Linked DNA regions of Homo sapiens: region 1 is linked to region 2. A link means that fine-mapping ties the variant in region 2 to the expression of a gene that starts in the linked region. Tissue or cell type: whole blood. Region 2 holds a variant in brackets; the other region holds the start of a gene. All regions are shown on one strand. Distances are from middle to middle.

What was found. PIP is the estimated chance that this variant, and not a neighbour inherited with it, causes the effect.
Region 1: KHDRBS1 starts here. The variant in region 2 is fine-mapped to the expression of KHDRBS1 in whole blood (TOPMed, PIP 0.90).

The regions. Positions count from the first base shown.
Region 1 is chr1:32,009,201-32,017,297 of GRCh38, reverse strand. It overlaps KHDRBS1 (KH RNA binding domain containing, signal transduction associated 1), which reads right to left and starts at 3,430. Exons shown (of 9, transcript NM_006559.3): 1 at 2,921-3,430. The coding sequence starts at 3,302. RefSeq lists silencers at 2,422-2,531, 3,012-3,221 and an enhancer at 2,625-3,195.
Region 2 is chr1:32,040,387-32,048,490 of GRCh38, reverse strand. KHDRBS1 (KH RNA binding domain containing, signal transduction associated 1) reads right to left here. Exons shown (of 9, transcript NM_006559.3): 9 at 4,614-5,964. The coding sequence ends at 5,867. Among named protein-coding and RNA genes, the nearest start is that of TMEM39B, 28 kb to the left of the region's middle. RefSeq lists an enhancer at 3,179-4,062. The variant G/A (reference allele first, on the strand shown) is at 4,690.

The DNA of each region.
Region 1 (8,097 bases), 31 kb after region 2:
AAATCTACATCCCTCAAAATTTTGTCTTTTTTTTTTTTTTGAGACGGAGTCTTGCTTCTTCACCCAGGCTGGAGTGCAATGGTGCAATCTGGGCTCACTGTAACCTCCAACTCCCGGTTTCAAGTGATTCTCCTGCCTCAGCCTCCCAAGTAGCTGGGATTACAGGCATGTGCCACCACGCCCGGCTAATTTTTGTATTTTTGGTAGAGACGGGGTTTCACCATGTTGGCCAGGCTGGTCTTGAACTCCTGACCTCAAGTGATCCGTCTGCCTCAGCCTCCCAAAGTGTTGGGATTATAGGTGTGAGCCACCGTGCACGGCTGTCATCATTTTTTCATCAGTCCCATCTTCAATGAAGGTGAATATGTATTATTTCGTGAAATATTTAATAAGAGGCCACTCTGTGCAGCACTCTTCAAGGCATAGAAGATACAACGGTGAACAAAGTAGACAAAAGATTCCTGCGCTCTGGTGGAGCTGACATTCTAGCCATGGAGAATGGGTAATCAACAAACAAATACTGTACATAACGACAATATAGTGCAACAGATGCTGATAGTGAAAAATAAAGTAAACCCAGGAAAGGAAGAGGAGAGCTGTGTAGGTGGTACAGGAAGAGTGCTCAGGGTCTCACGGTACCTTATTGGGAATGGTCAAAGGTGCCTGGAGGAGCCACAGTCCCAAGCAGTAGACTCTGCTCTCTGGTTTCCTTTCTGTATCTTAGCCTTATCATCTTCACTGCCCTGTTAACACTGTGATACTTTCAAATATACTTTTTTTTTTTTGGTCACCTATCATCCCAGATAGATTTTAATATTTTGTCCAACTATAGCTTAAAGTACAATTTGCAGCAGGCACTATAGTGAGGGAACGGGGAAGGTGTGTAGACTGACCAAAAATCCTGGTTACGATGCTTACTAATTTTGTTACCTTAGGCAAATTATTAATCTCTGGGTGTCTTGGTTTCCTCATCTGTATAAGTGAGGATAATAAAAGTAAGTTCTCATTTCATTTTATAGGTTAAATATTTAATGTAAAGTGCTCAGACCTCAAACATTAAGTGTTAGCTATATTTTTCTTCCGTGTGTTCTTTTCTTTTTTTTTTTTTTTTCCTTTTTTGAGATGGAGTTTAGCTCTTGTTGCCCAGGCTGGAGTGTAATGGCGCAATCTGGGCTCCCTGCAACCTTCGCTTCCCAGGTTCAAGTGATTTTCCTGCCTCAGCTTCCAAAGTAGCTGGGATCACAGGCGTGCGCCACCACGCGAAGCTAATTTTGTATTTTTAGTAGAGACGGGGTTTCACCATGTTGATCAGGCTGGTCTCCAACTCCTGACCTCGCGATCAGCCCGTCTCGGCCTCCCAAAGTGCTGGGATTACAGGCGTGAGCCACCGCGCCTGCCCCTTCCATGTGATCTTACCAGAGCTTAAATACTACTATTCTATCTTCTCAAAGTCTCACTTCCGCACAATGGGTTGTGACTTCACTGCAATCCCCTTGCAAGATAATTCAGAAATACCTTAAAAGCCAGGCTCAACATATATTAACACTTATCCATGCTAGAAAGAATTCATACATCCCAAACCAACAGTAACCTCAATCACATTTCTCCAATTTCAGTTGGGTTTAAAAAAAATACATCCAGAAAGCCCAAGTTAAAAATAAAGAGCACTCTCTTAGTTAAGCAGTGAGGGGAGACTGAAAATTAAAAGTAACTTTTAAGGATCAACAGTTTTTGACAGTTATCTTAAGAAAGCATAAAAGATGAACACCACACTGGTAAAGATCCCTTACCTTACAGTGTTGGGAGACAGAGAACAAAGGGAGGGAGATAATATTTTCATAATGAACTGTCCATTATATTAACCTTGCCAAAGAGTCCAACTACTCATTCAGTGTTGAAGGATGTGAATTTTTACTTGCTTAGTAAAATTTAGGTATCATAAAAAATATTAAAATAATATTTTAACTAGAAGCGAAAGTCAGACAGCTTTAGGGAAAAATCAGAGCGACTAGGTGATTGGCCAGTGCTGATGAGGAAAAGAGCGCTAACCTACAGAACAAAGACTCTCATTTCTAATCTATTTCACTACTGAATCAAAAATGTAAAAAACAGCAACAAAAAGGCCAAGCCTTTCAGTACAAGCATCATGCAACTTCTCTCAATTTCTGTCCATCTCGTTGGGAAACGTCATGTGAACTACGCGGGAGTCCCTATCGTCCCATTTCACTGTCTCTAGGGTTACTTCACTCCTTCAACGACAGTGAACACACGGTGTAAAATGGCTCAGTAGCAATTCTTATTTTATCAGCCTTAGTCGGAAATCTGATTCGGAAACCTCAAGCTCCGATCCACATAAATCGCTCCTTCCTCCCAGCAACTTAAGCTGCGGTTACCGCTAAGTCCGGCTCGGCCCCAGCGACAGCAAGGCACTGGACAGGGCATTCCAGCCTCACCCCACCTCACCTCGGCCCTTCCTCCCACGGTCCCTCCCCGCTCTGGCTGTCTTCACCTCCTACACCTCGGTCGAGGCGCTCATCGCCACCCGCGATCAAAAAGGGTTTCCCTTCAGGGAAAGGGGGAAATGAAGGTTCATTTCTGGAAGAATCTGCGCGCCCGGCAGCCGCAAGAGGAGGGAGGAGGGAAGAGTCGGGAAAGGGGCGGGGAGCTCAGCACTATCCATCAAGACATTAGCGCTAGGGGATCGCAAAGTCGCCTTCGGGCCTCCACTGCAGCCTAGAAATTCTCCCACGCACTCCGGGCTGAGGTGGGAATGTGGAATCCAGGCTCCCAAAAATGAGGATGAGACCGGAACTCCCGACTGCCTCGGTCCCGAGGGGGCGGGAAGCGAGAGGAACAAAGCCAGGGCCACTCATGCCCGGGATGGCCGGGCGACCCAGAGGGACACGGGAGGCCCCCTTACCTGCCGTCAGCAGCTGCATGGCGTGAGTGAAGGACGGGTCGAGCGAGTCCTTCTCGGCCATGAGTTCGGGCAGGTACTTGTTCTCTGGCTCCATCTTGACCGAGGCTGTGGCCGAGGGGGGCAGCAGCGGGGTCGGCGCTGGCCCGCCCACTGTCGCGTCGGGACCCGTGGCCGAGGGCGGCAGCAGCGGTGGCGGCTGCGTGGCGGGCGAGGCCCGGGCGCCCCCGCGGGATCCCCCTCCGCCTCCCCGGGACCGGTGAGGCAGCGGCGGCTGCCGAGACGGCGTCTGACGCACCGAGGGGTGGGCACCGGAGGGGTCCATGGAGCCGCTACGGCCCGAAGACCGGCTCATGCGCGCGGCGGGGTCGTCCCGGCGCTGCATCTGGGAGGATGTGCGATCCAAGGAGCGAGAAAGCGACGCGGCAGCGACGGAGGCCCGAGCGGCGGTTGGCGGGGGTGGCAGAGCGGGAGCGGTAGCGACCGAAGCCGACCCGAGCGACCCAGCGAGAGAGAGCACCGGAAATGAGGCGGCGCGCGTGCGCAGCCAGCCACCGGCACCGCCCTTGGGTTTCTCCGCGGAGAACAAAGTCCCCAGTCCGGCCACGGCGCCTGCGCACCGCCGCGGCGTCCGAGAAGTCGCCTCCCGACTCTGGCTTTCCCTCCGCTCCCGCCAGGCCAGAGCTTGATGCGCATGCGCGGGAGGCAGTGGGCTCCGTTCGTTTCGTTTTCCACGTGACTCGGCGCTAGCGGAACACGTGTCTCCTCCCCTTTCTGGCGTGGAGGGGGCGGGAGCTGTGGAATGTCTTTGTCTGCGCGCGGGCCCGCGGAGTGTGGGGCGGGAGACCTGTTACTCGCGGGGCCACGCCCTCTCCAACGGCTGAGCAGTGGAGGGAGGCTGTGGGGAGTGGGGTGGGGGGCGGTCACCGAAGTAAGGAAGTAAAAGACTGCCGAGAGGGTCACGGAAAGGGGAGGGAGAGAGAATTGAGACCGCCTGGGGAGGAAGACAGGAGTGAGACAGACTGCACAGGGAGAAAGGAAGGCTGAGGGAGAGTCTGATGCAGGGGGAAAGTTGGGGAAGGGAAACCTGGAGGGAGAAATTGAGGAAGGACGGCTTGGTGGAAACACTGAAGGCGATTGGAGTACTTGAACTAAGAGGGATGGTTCAGATCAGAGATCTGAAGTCTAGCAAAGAAAAGGGTCCCAGACATCAGGGAACACAAGAAGTTGTTTCCAGTATATATATTTCCAGTATTACATATATTCCAGTCGGTTCTAAAACGGTTGACATTGTTGGTACGGGAAATCTTAAGCAGCATTTTAGCTCTTTTTACATATTTTACTGCTTTTTCTGAATTGTGTTTGTTTTGTTTCGCCGTCATTATTGCCAATTAAGTGTTTCTTCCTTCAAAAAGTGAGGTAGAGACCAGATCCTTAATCCACGTTGGTTGCATCATTAGGATGGCTTCTTCTACCACTCCAGACTTGCTCAAAGAGACCCTTGCCACTACTCTCAAAGGCAAGGTACATAGTGGACAGTCGCCTACGACGTTCTCCACATCCTGGTGTGCTATATGCAAGTGGAGCCTTAGGTCCCTACTTGTCCCATAAGCCATCAAAAGCCTGGTGCCCTCTCTAACTTTCCCTTCCCTCCGCAGATTATTTTCTTCTTCCATTTAAAGCACTCACTCCCATCTCTTTTCCTTCTGGATTAGTTCTCCTAATGAGCCCACACTTTTCAAAAGTCTTTGGGGACCGGTGCGGTGGCTTATGCCTGTAATCCCAGCACTTTGGGAGGCCTAGGTGGGAGGATTACTTGAGGCTAGGAGTTCGAGAGCAGCCTGGACAATATAATGAGACCTCATCTCTACAATAAAAAAAGTTTCCGCCCGGCTTGGTGGCTCATGCCTGTGATCCCAACACTTTGGGAGGCCGAGGTGGGCAAATCACCTGAGGCCAGGAGTTCGAGACCAACTTGGCCAACATGATGAAACCCCATCTTTACTAAAAATATAAAAATTAGCCGGGTGTGGTGGTGCATACCTGTAATCCCAGCTACTTGGGAGGCTGAGGCAGGAGAATTGCTTGAACCAGGGACGCGGAGGCTGCCGTGAGCCGAGATCACGCCACTGCACTCCAGCCTGGGCAACAGAGCGAGACTACGTCTCAAAAAAAAAAAAAAAGGAAAAAAAGGTTTATTTGGAAATTGTCTTCTGAGTGCCTGGAAACTTGATTTTTGGATGTGAAGCTTAGAACCCTTTAACTAGAGAACCTAAAGGCCTTCTTTAAGGGGTTAAGGGAGAGGATTTCCAAATTACCCACAGAAATGAAAACAAAACACGTATCTACATAAATTATATATATATAATATAAAATATAGGCCAGATGCGATGGCTCATGCTTGTAATCCCAGCACTTTGGGAAACCGAGGCGGGCAGATCACAAGGTCAAGAGATCGAGACCATCCTGGCCAACATTGTGAAACCCCGTCTCTACTAAAAATACAAAAATTAGCTGGGTGTGGTGGTGTGCCTGTAGTCCCAGCTACTCAGGAGGCTGAGGCAGAAGAATCGCTTGAACCCAGGAGGCGGAGGTTGCAGTGAGCTGAGATTGCAGCACTGCACTCCAGCCTGGGGGACAGTGCGAGACTCTGTCTTGGGAAAAAAAAGAAAGAAAGAAAGAAATTAGCTGAGTGTGGTGGCGTGCACCTGTTGTCCCCAGCTACTTGAGAGACTGAGGTGGGAAGATTGCTGCTTGAGCCTGGGAAATTGAGACTACAGTGAGCAACGACTGCCCCACTGCACTCAGCCTGGACGACAGAGTGAGACCTTGTCTCAAAAAAAAAAAAAAAAAAAAAAAAAAAAAAAAAAAAAAGGCCAGTGCGGTGGCCCACTCCTGTAATCCCAGCACTTTGGGAGGCCAAAGTGGGTAGATCACCTGAGGTCAGGAGTTCAAGACCAGCCTGGCTAATACAGTGAAACCCCATCTCTACTAAAAACATAAAAAAGTTAGCTGAACGTGGTGGCATGCACCTGTAATCCCAGCTACTTGGGAGGCTGAGGCAGAAGAATTGCTTGAACCCGGGAGGTGGAGGTTACAGTGAGCCGAGATCGCGCCACACTGCACTCCAGCCTGGGCAACAGAGTCAGACTCCGTGTCAAAAAGAAAAAAGAAACGAAAAAATTAAGTGCTGTTGGAGTTCAATGCAGAAGATAGATTTTGGCCAAGGAAGAATAAGTTCCAGGCAAAGGGAAGTGGAATAAATGAGCAGAGATGAGAACGTGGGAAATGTGTTCAGGGAATGGGAGTAATCCAGTGTCAGACTTGAAGGAATAGGTGGGTTGAGAGAGCAACTGCATGAAGAGGGGGGAAGGGGCAAGGAGAATTTACAGTTCCTTTGCAACTCATTTCCACTGCCACCCTTGAAGATCCTTCTTGAGTGGTGGTGTTACAAATGGCTGAAGCGTCCTTGCCCTGTAATGAGATGCCCAAATAGAGATCCCTTGAGCTGAGGCTAATAAAACTTTGATAAAGGTTTGTCTGAGAAGGAGCTGGGTAGTGGTATCTATGGCCTTTCTAGACTAGAATCAACAGTTACTGCATATGTATATCAAAACATGTTGTAGCCATACCTATATACAATTTTAAAAACACTGGAAACAAAACAAAAAATAACCCTCAGTCTTTCTGGGTGCTTGCCAGATCTTTACTTGCTTTCCCTGAGAGTAGGCTGAGCGGGAGAGATGTGCTCTTCTTCCAGGCGAGAACCCTAAAGGTAATCTCAGGCCAAGAGTGGTTGAGGTTGCGGTGTATGTATCCACTAAGTGATGCAGCAGCCTTCTATTTTGGGGGCCCTTCTCAGGGTAGGGAAGAGTAATTTCTGCTCTGAAAGCCTAGAAGTCTGGAGTTTATTTTGTGTTCACCACAGTATGCTGCCCCAGGTCCACCTGAAGGTTAACAACCATGTGAAAAGACTAACGTTGGAGTGGGGCAAATTCAAACAACCCGGCAATGCCTTGTCCTCACTGTGTATCATTTGGAAGACCTCTGAAACTTAGTTTTCTCTTCTATAAAGTGGGGTAATGCCATCTACCTTGAAGGCTTATTGTGAACATTAACAAATATCAGTGTAAACCTCCTGATAGTAGGGCTTATAAACAGAAGTAATCACTATTATACCCTTTAGTACCTGATGAAGATTTGTGGGTGCTTTATGTTGGCTATGGATCTGAAAGTCCTACTCTCTCTCTCCTTTTTTTTTTTTTTTTTTTTTTTTTTGAGATGGAGTCTTGCTCTGTCACCCAGGCTGGAGTGCAGTGGCAGGATCTCAGCTCACTACAAGCTCCACCTCCTGGGTTCACGCCATTCTCCTGCCTCAGCCTCCCGGGTAGCTGGGACTACAGCTCACCACCATGCCCAGCTAATTTTTTTGTATTTTTAGTAGAGACAGTGTTTCACCGTGTTAGCCAGGATGGTCTCGATCTCCTGACCTCATGATCCGCCCGCCTCAGCCTCCCAAAGTGCTGGGGTTACAGGCATGAGCCACCGCGCCTGGCCAAGTCCTACTCTCTAATCTGTATAATTTTCACTGAGTATAGCTAGGCTTGTTTTGGGGGGAGGAGGAGGTTCCAAAAAGAGCAAGTTTCTTCTACCCTTAATCCAGTTACTATGGTATAGGATACAGCAGCAGTGCATAATGGTTCAGATGGAGGTTGGTAGCTCTGCCTCTTACCTGCTGGGTGATTGAGCACAGTGTTTTGCTTTGCTGCATTAGTCAGGATTCTTTAGAGAGACAGAATAAATACAGTATATAGATAGATGTACACATTCAAGAGGGGACTTGTGAGGGCAATTGGTTCACATGATTATGGAGGCTGAGAAGTCCCATTGGAGGCCTTCTGCAAGCTGGAGACCCTGGCAAGCCGGTCGTGTGGCTCAGTCCAAATCTGAGATCCTCAGAACCAAGGAAGCCAGTGGTGTGATGCTTAGAGGATGAAGGCCTGAGAACCCAGGGGCTGCTGGTGTAAGTCCTGGAGTCCAAGGGCTGAAGAGCATGGGGATCTAATGTCTAAGGACAGGAGAAGAAGAGTGTCCTAGCTCCAGGAAGAGAGACAGGAAATCCCTTCTTTGCCTTTTGTGTTCATTCTGGGCCCTAGCCCATTAGCTGGCGCCCGCCCACA
Region 2 (8,104 bases):
CTACCCGGGCTGGAGTACAGTGTTGTGATCATAGCATACTGTAACCTTGAACTCCTCGACTCAAGTGATCCTCCTTCCCCTGCCTCCTGAGTAGCTAGGATAAGAGGTGCAAGCCATCATGCCCAGCTAATGCCCAGCTAACTTTTTGTAGAGACAGAGTCTGCTATGTTGTCCCGGCTTGTCTTGAACTCCTGGCCTCAAGTGATCCTCCCAACTCAGCCTCCCCAGGTGTTGGGATTACAGGCATGAGCTGCCATGCGCAGCCAAGAAAATTTTTAGAGAAGGGAAAGACACAGTAATGAAAATGATCTTCAAATACCTGAAAGGATGTTGCTTCAGAGGTCCAAAGCAGATTCAGTTTAAATTACTGAGGTACAGGTCTCATTCAAAATGAGAGATAAAATACTTAGAGCCATCTCTAATGAAATGGGCTGCTTTTGGAAGTAATGTTTCCTATGACTAGTATGAAGTACTATGTTACATGCTATAACCTGGATGAACCAAACACTATGCAAAGTCAAAGAAGCCAATTCCAAAAAGCATATATTATATGATTCCATTTATATGGAATGTTCAGAATAGGCAAACCCACAGAAAGAGTAGTGGCTGCCAACAGCTGGGGAGAGAAGGGAGTTGGGAGTGACTATTAGCAGATATAAGATTTGTTTTTAGAGTGATGGAAATATTCTGGAATTAAATAGTGGAAATGGTTGCACAGTATAAATATACTAAAAACTACTGCATTGTACACTTTAAAATTGTAAATTTTATGCTATGTGAATTTTTCCTCAAAACAGAAACAAAGGTAGAAAGGGACCAAATGAGATACTTACTAACTCTGTTAGGATATTATGATGCATACAGTGATAAATGTCAGGTATTATCATCAACTTCATTTGATGATAAATGAGGCACTGAAAGGGTTTTGTTTCTGACTAAGGTGACAAAGGCTCACATGAAGCAGAGCCAGGACAGATACCCAATCTTGCCTGTCTCTAAAGCTTACAGAATTGTAATAAAAGTTCACAGGCTGGCCGGGTACAGTGGCTCACGCCTGTGATCCTAGCACTTTGGGAGGCTGAGGTGGGCGGATCACTTGAAGCCAGGAGTTCAAGACTAGCCTGGCCAACATGGTGAAACCACATCTCTACTAAAAATACAAAAATTATCCAGGCGTGGTGGTGTGTGCCTATAATCCCAGCTACTCCGGAGGCTGAGGCAGGGGAATCGCTTGAACCCGGGAGGTGGAGGTCGCAGTAAGCTGAAATCACACCACTGCACTCCAGCCTGGGCAACAGAGTGAGACTCCACCTTAAAATAAATAAATAAAGTTCACAGGTAGTGAGTGATAGAATTTTACAGAAAACACTTGGATCAATGGGCGAAGCTACATGTCCAGAACAGGCAGAACACCAGCAGGCCTAGGTCCACAAACAGAACCTGCCTTTCCAAGCACAGTTCACAGTCCAAATGAAAGGTTTCCCCAAACTTCTAATCCATTTTTCTTCTTCAGACTACCCTAGGAAGAGTTGAGACTAAATTCTCTGCATTCAGGGATTCCCCACGCTAAATTTCCTAGCCATTCATGTGACCAACATCAAACGTAGGACTTGCCAGGTGCCCAGAATCTTGTTCAGTACATATGCCCCTCTCTTAAAGCTTCCAGATCTCTCACAGGCTGAGAGGCAGGCTTGGAAGAAAAAGAAATTCCAAGAAGCCAAATTTCACTGTGAAAGGTTCTATATGCGTAGGGCTTACCTAGTTAGGCCTTTCTCCTCAGTGTCATCCTAATCCTAACACCTCAGAGCAGAGAAAAAATCAGCCAGTTAGTTGCTTAATGGCTTCAATTAACAGGAAAGCTCACTGTTGTCACAGCCCCCAACTACACAAACCAGGGAGTCAAACTCCACATCCTTTCTTCTATACCACAATTATCCCTATGAAGGACCTCCTAAGTATAAGAAATATCCTTTCCCAGCCGGGTGTGGTGGCTCACGCCTGTAATCTCAGCACTTTGGGAGGCCAAGGTGGGTGGATCACCTGAGGTCAGGAGTTCGAGACCAGCCTGACCAATAAGGTGAAACCTCGTCTCTACTAAACAATACAAAAATTAGCCAGGCGTGGTGGCAGGTGCCTGTAGTCCCAGGTACTCGGGAGGCTGAGACAGGAGAATTGCTTGAACCCAGAGGCGGAGGTTGCAGTGAGCTGAGATTGCGCCACTGCAGCCAAGCCTGGGTAATGGAGCAGGGCTCCGTCTCAAAAAAAACAAAACAAAAGAAAACCAAAAAAACCAAAAAAAAAAAAGAAATACCCTTTCCCTAGATTAAGGACAGTATAGTATAGGATTAAGATGACAGGTTTTGGCAACAGAAATCTTGAGCTTGAGTACCAGCCATACTAATTATGGGACCCTGGGAAGTTACTTAACTTCACTAGGTCTAAGTTACTTCTGTAAAATATGGATATTACTGGACAATTGTTTCTGGGCTGCCCAGCATCCATTTCCCTTTCCTAACAACTCACCAACTGCCTTTTGAGGAACTGGTTTTTCTTACGCATGTGACTCAGCTAATCCAGTCTGATATTCCCTCTCTAAAACCTGAATCTTGAGTAGAGGCAGAAAGAGACCCAACATAGTTTGAGTTGTGCCCAAGGAGCCAGTCCTTGTTTCAAGATCGTTCCTGTGGTCTACCACTGTTGTCCCAGTTCCCTGCAGCCACTACAGTTCCCACACCAGATTTTTTATCCTTCGCACTGAACATTGAGCCCTTAACACCTTTCTAATAAAGTCTTTTTCATTTACATTAGCCACTTTGTTGCTTGCAACCAATGAACTCCAAGTGGAACACCACCTCATCAGGTTATTAACAGGATAAACAGAGTGGGATTCAACAGATCTAAGTTGATATTGTCTGGCCTTATCAACCACTAGATGTAAATTCAGTATGGACATGTAAGTGTGGTCATGTCGTAAATAAGGTACAAATGACCACAAAAAAGATTAACCCATTGACCACCTTACAGGCCACCTCCTAGCATAACTGTTTTACAGTTATGATAAAAGGCCCATGTTCCTTAATAGAAAGCCACCTTAACATACCTGACATGGGTCTTCACTACCCATTCTAGTCCAGGAAATGCCTCAGGAGTTTTCAGTCACCTGAAAATGGAGAAATAACAGATCAGTCTTTTGAAGAGGAAGTTTTAAAGACATACAAAATAAAAGATAAAGAGATCCTGCATGCAGTTTACACATTACAGGAGAAACATGCAACTTTTAAGAAATTTTAAGTAAAGTTTCATTGTGAATATCAATATGGGGACCTACAGGGACTCATCCTTACACAGTTTTAAATAGCTGAGCAGAAAGCTTTTGGGGTGCAGCAGGAGGTCTAATCTACAGTCATTGAAATTTTACAATGTGTCATTTAAGATGTCAGACTTTGTGCCCAGGTTACGTTACAGTTCACTTGTGATGGGCAGGATTATTAAGAGTTATGGCTAATTTATGCGGCAACATATGGTTTTTCTTTTTACAGCTATTTTTATTAAACAAGTTTTGCAAAGTTTTAACATTAAAATTAACAGCTAAAGAATTGTTTATGCAAGTTGCTGTCACAGTTTATGTAAAAGAGAAATATGTGCTATTAAAATCAGACATTTAGGTTACCTTTGGTTTTTTGCGATGCATGTTAGCTTTACACATCCTGATTCTCTTGCGATAATTTTCCTTTAAAAAGGGGGGTATAGAGTGATCTCTTTTCATCAAAACAAGACATAATGCCCTGAAAGCTGACTTCAAACCATGGTTGAAAATTCAGTTATTTACATTTTATCACAATCTACAAATACATTTTTTTGTTGGTGTGTTTTAAAAAGAAAAAAAAAATGTCCATCATGCACTGCTGCAGGCAGCTTGGCACTTCAATACAAGAGGATTTTTCACCCCCGAGCAGTTTAGGTGGCTCTCTTAGGGAAGCCATGAGAACCCTGAGAATCAGCATAGAGTTGAAATGGGACCAACCAATTCCATCACTTCCTCTCTTGGTCTCTTAGGAGGGGGTTCAGAGCCAGCCTATCATGCCAAATCCTGCCCCAGCCCAGCTGAGTTATCAGCATTTCTGGGATTGAAAGAGAAACCCTCAAGGGCACCCAGAGTTGGCTGAACTGTCATGCCTAAAGGCAGATGCTGTCCCCTTCTGAGCTCACAGAAATTATTTGGTGTCACACTTTAGAGCCACCTAGGGGTTCTACAGAAGGTGCAAACCAGGCTGGCTTGCACTTTTAAATACTGAGACCTATCTATGGAAACCAATCCAAGTTTCAGCTCAGTTGAGTTGAAAACTCTCCATAAATTAGAATTTTTGATAGGATTGGATACAACAGCTTCCAACAACTTCCAGGGGGTGAAAAAGCTTTGGTTATTTTTAAACTAAAACTTAACAACTCCATCAACTTTTTTTTGGTAAACTTAAAATAAAATCCCCCCCACCACTTTTAAGAATGTTTCCAACTTTTAACAAGCCCATTAACTTTAGAGTTAATTTAAGTTTATTTGAAAGAGAAAACTATTTTATGGTCCACCCAAAAAAATGACAATTCATCACATTTACTTTGATTAAAAAAGGACTAAACTTTATTGACAAACTGCTGCAGACATTTTGACATAAGTTTAAGCTACCTATTTAG[G/A]CAGACTTACACATGTAGCATTTAATCTTCCGAGAACAAAATGGGAGGACGGTACAAATCCAATTAGGACTTTAACTTATGTACAAAGTGGATTTTGATTCCTTTTTCATTCAGCTGCAGTGTCCCTTTTTATATCATGCTAGTGTTGAGACATACTTGACTAACTTGGGAACAGTTCGATATATTGACAACCGTCAACTTAAGAAAATCAACAGCTTTTGGCCCCAGCGTCCAAGTGAACTTTTCATGGAGTGCAGAATCTCAAATGGACAAAATACTTTGTCTTTTTAAATACTGAAAATTTAATTATTAGTACTATGACTGAAAGATTCTTCATGGCTAAAAAGCTCTGCATCAAACTCAATTCAGGAGGCCTTCCCTCCCCACCACCATCAACCTCTTCAAAACCTACTCCCTCCCTCTAAGTATCTCTCAACACAGTATGTCTGGGGCTAGATTTCAAAACCCACGTAATGAAAAAGTCAGTTTTACAAGCCTAATTTTGTTGTTTTTTTTTTTATATCAATTAACGTTAAAAATTGCATCAACTATTTAATTCATGAGGATCTTTCATATTAAAATTTAACCTTAAGATTCAACCGCCATGTGCTTTTATAAAGGAAACATTTTTTAGAGACGTCTGAGCTCACTTTTACATGGTGGTGCCTACTGCCGTTAATGTTTGTGATTTTAAATCTTAAACAGCCCTGAATTTTGAAATGTAGCCTAGTTTGGGATTCTGCAACTACAACTTTACGGGATGCCTCAAATCAAAACTAAGAGAAACTTAACAAGCCTTTACTTCAGAACCTTTAAGCAAGCAATGTCATTTTTGAAACTAACAGGTTTGTGTGTTTTTTTTTTTTACTCAACTTCTTTTTTTTATTATAAAAGGTACACTTCTGTTTATATTTAAACAACAAAGAAAAAAGCATCTACACACTTAAAAAATTAATTCAATATTCCTAAATCTATTTTAACTCATTTTAAAATACTACATACAGAAGCCAGAATGCAGAGTTAAGAATGGAATAAGGTGGGGAGAAGAAGGGGACCACGAAGAAAAACACTTAGACAATTACTTGTCTGTTGTGGGTAAAGCAACAGGAATCCTGGGAGATACAAGAAATCAGTAACAACTTTGCTCATAACTGATATTTTCCCCTCATGTTTGTTTTTAATAACGTCCATATGGGTGCTCTCTGTATGCTCCCTTCACTGGCCTAGCAGGAGGGGCCTTCAGCGACGGCCTGGTCCCATTCCAGTCGTCCTGGCCTGTGGGGAAAACAAAGACAGTTTATAAACCATGTGGCGACAGCACTTAGGGATAAGCAGGGATAGGTCACATAGTAAAGATCACCAAAAACACTGAGTTTCTTCTAATGTCTTGACACTTCCCCTGGTGTTCCTTGCTCTCTACTTGGCTTGGCCCTCTTGGGCAGCCTGGGCAATTTTTCAGTTTTGAGTGGAAGGACAGAAGGGAACAAATCTAAAAAGGCTGCCATTGACTCTGGAGTAATCTCCCACAACGAGGTTCTTCATAGACAAATGTGATCTGTACGCCAGTCCCCAAACCTGGAGATACCCAACACCTTGCTTGAGATAGTGAGGAACTCATTAATCTTAGTGAGTCTGCAATGGCCTTTCCTGTTCCCAAAACAATTTGGCAGGCACCCTCAGGTAAGGTGGGAAGACTTCTGGAAGTCTTTCAGATTGGAAGCAGGCAGCCAGCCCCACTTCCATGCAACAGCAAGTCACGTTTCCTTACGGAGAAGTGTCCTCTAGCTCCCTGGGAAAACCAAGCAAGGGCCACTTTCCATGGGGCCCTCCACCAGCAGAGCTGATACTGCTCTCTCTGGTAGAGGGATGTGCAATCAAATGTTGCACTGACAGCACTGTTTAAGATAATTCCAAGGCTGCATGCGGTGGCTCACGCCCGTAATCCCAGCACTTTGGGAGGCCAAGGCAGGCAGATCACAAGGTCAGGAGTTCGAGACCAGCCTGACCAACAGGGTGAAACCCCATCTCTACTAAAAATACAAAAATTAGCCAGGCGTGGTGGCGCATGCCTGTAATCCCAGCTACTCAGGAGGCTGAGGCAGGAGAAGTGCTTGAACCTGGGAGGCAGAGGTTGCAGTGAGCTGAGATTGTGCCACTCCACTCCAGCCTGGACAACAGAGCCAGACTCCATCTCAAAAAAAAAAAAAAAAAAAAAAAAGGATAATTCCTTATCTCCTTTCTTAAGTCAACAGGTGAGAGAAGCCAGAAGCCAGACAATGTGGTTCACATCCTCAAATGGTTCTCCTTTGTGACAGGGAAAAGCCTGAGGAATATGATCACATAATTCTAGAGGTGACCTCTTATGAAAATAAATTGCGTTAAATTTATTCTTCCCACACCTTACACACGCTAGTTCATCCCTGAAGTATTTTTCCAGCTGCCTGTATTCACAAGTATCTGCCTCCATCTCTATAGGCCTCAAACTCCTATACAGATCTAAAGTCACACAGAACCCTAATTATACCCCTAGTATAACACACATGTCCATCACTTTCCAAGTGGCTTCTGGGTATCAACAAGACAGTTTCTTTTTCTTTTTTTCCTGACGTATACAGATCATCCTGGACAGTTTATTTCTCTAATTCTGTTAATCAAAGCAGAGATCAGAACGGATTAACTGTGGCAACGTCGTATCAGGAGCACAAAGAGAAGCCTGCCTCTTTCAGTTTGGTCTTTTCTCCAGCAAAACAGAAATGCAATTTAGTCAAACACATACAGAGGCCCCACTGTACTGCCTCACTGATGGAGGGAAATACTTGGGTGCAATCACACACAGTGTTAGTGATTGGCAACTGTCCAGTGCTATTTCGCTAAAACTGGTAAAAACAGTTTCCTTGGGCAAGCAGCTGATTGGCTACTTCATACTGTGCTGAGTTGGGCTCAGCTTGTCTGTCTCTGGGAGGCCCTAAGGGGCTCCTCTTTTTCAGCTAGGGATAAGGGGAGACTGTCAACCAGTATCTTAGCGTGAACTGTCAATCGCTGAGCCCCTGCCAAGGACTCTCTGGAAGTCCCTCAGGTATGCTGAAAATACCTTATACTGAAAAGGTAGCTCTCGCTGCATCCACTGCCACATAGTATTCCCAGTGAGGCCTATTAACACAGGGCCATAACTGGCTCTTGAGGACACACTTGAGCGATGTGTTTTTAACCAAACCTCAGGGAAGGCAGCCTTGTCCTGCTGCTGTTGCAGCCTCCATAGCTCTCTTGGGATCAAGGACTGTGTTGATGTCTTCAAGCCAACAAGGAGCTTGGTGCCAGTACTGTCCTGAATTATTGGCTCTAGCCCCTACAGCCTCTAATCTGATTCTAATAGGCACTATTTTTTTTTTTTGAGACGGACTTTTGTTGCCCAGGC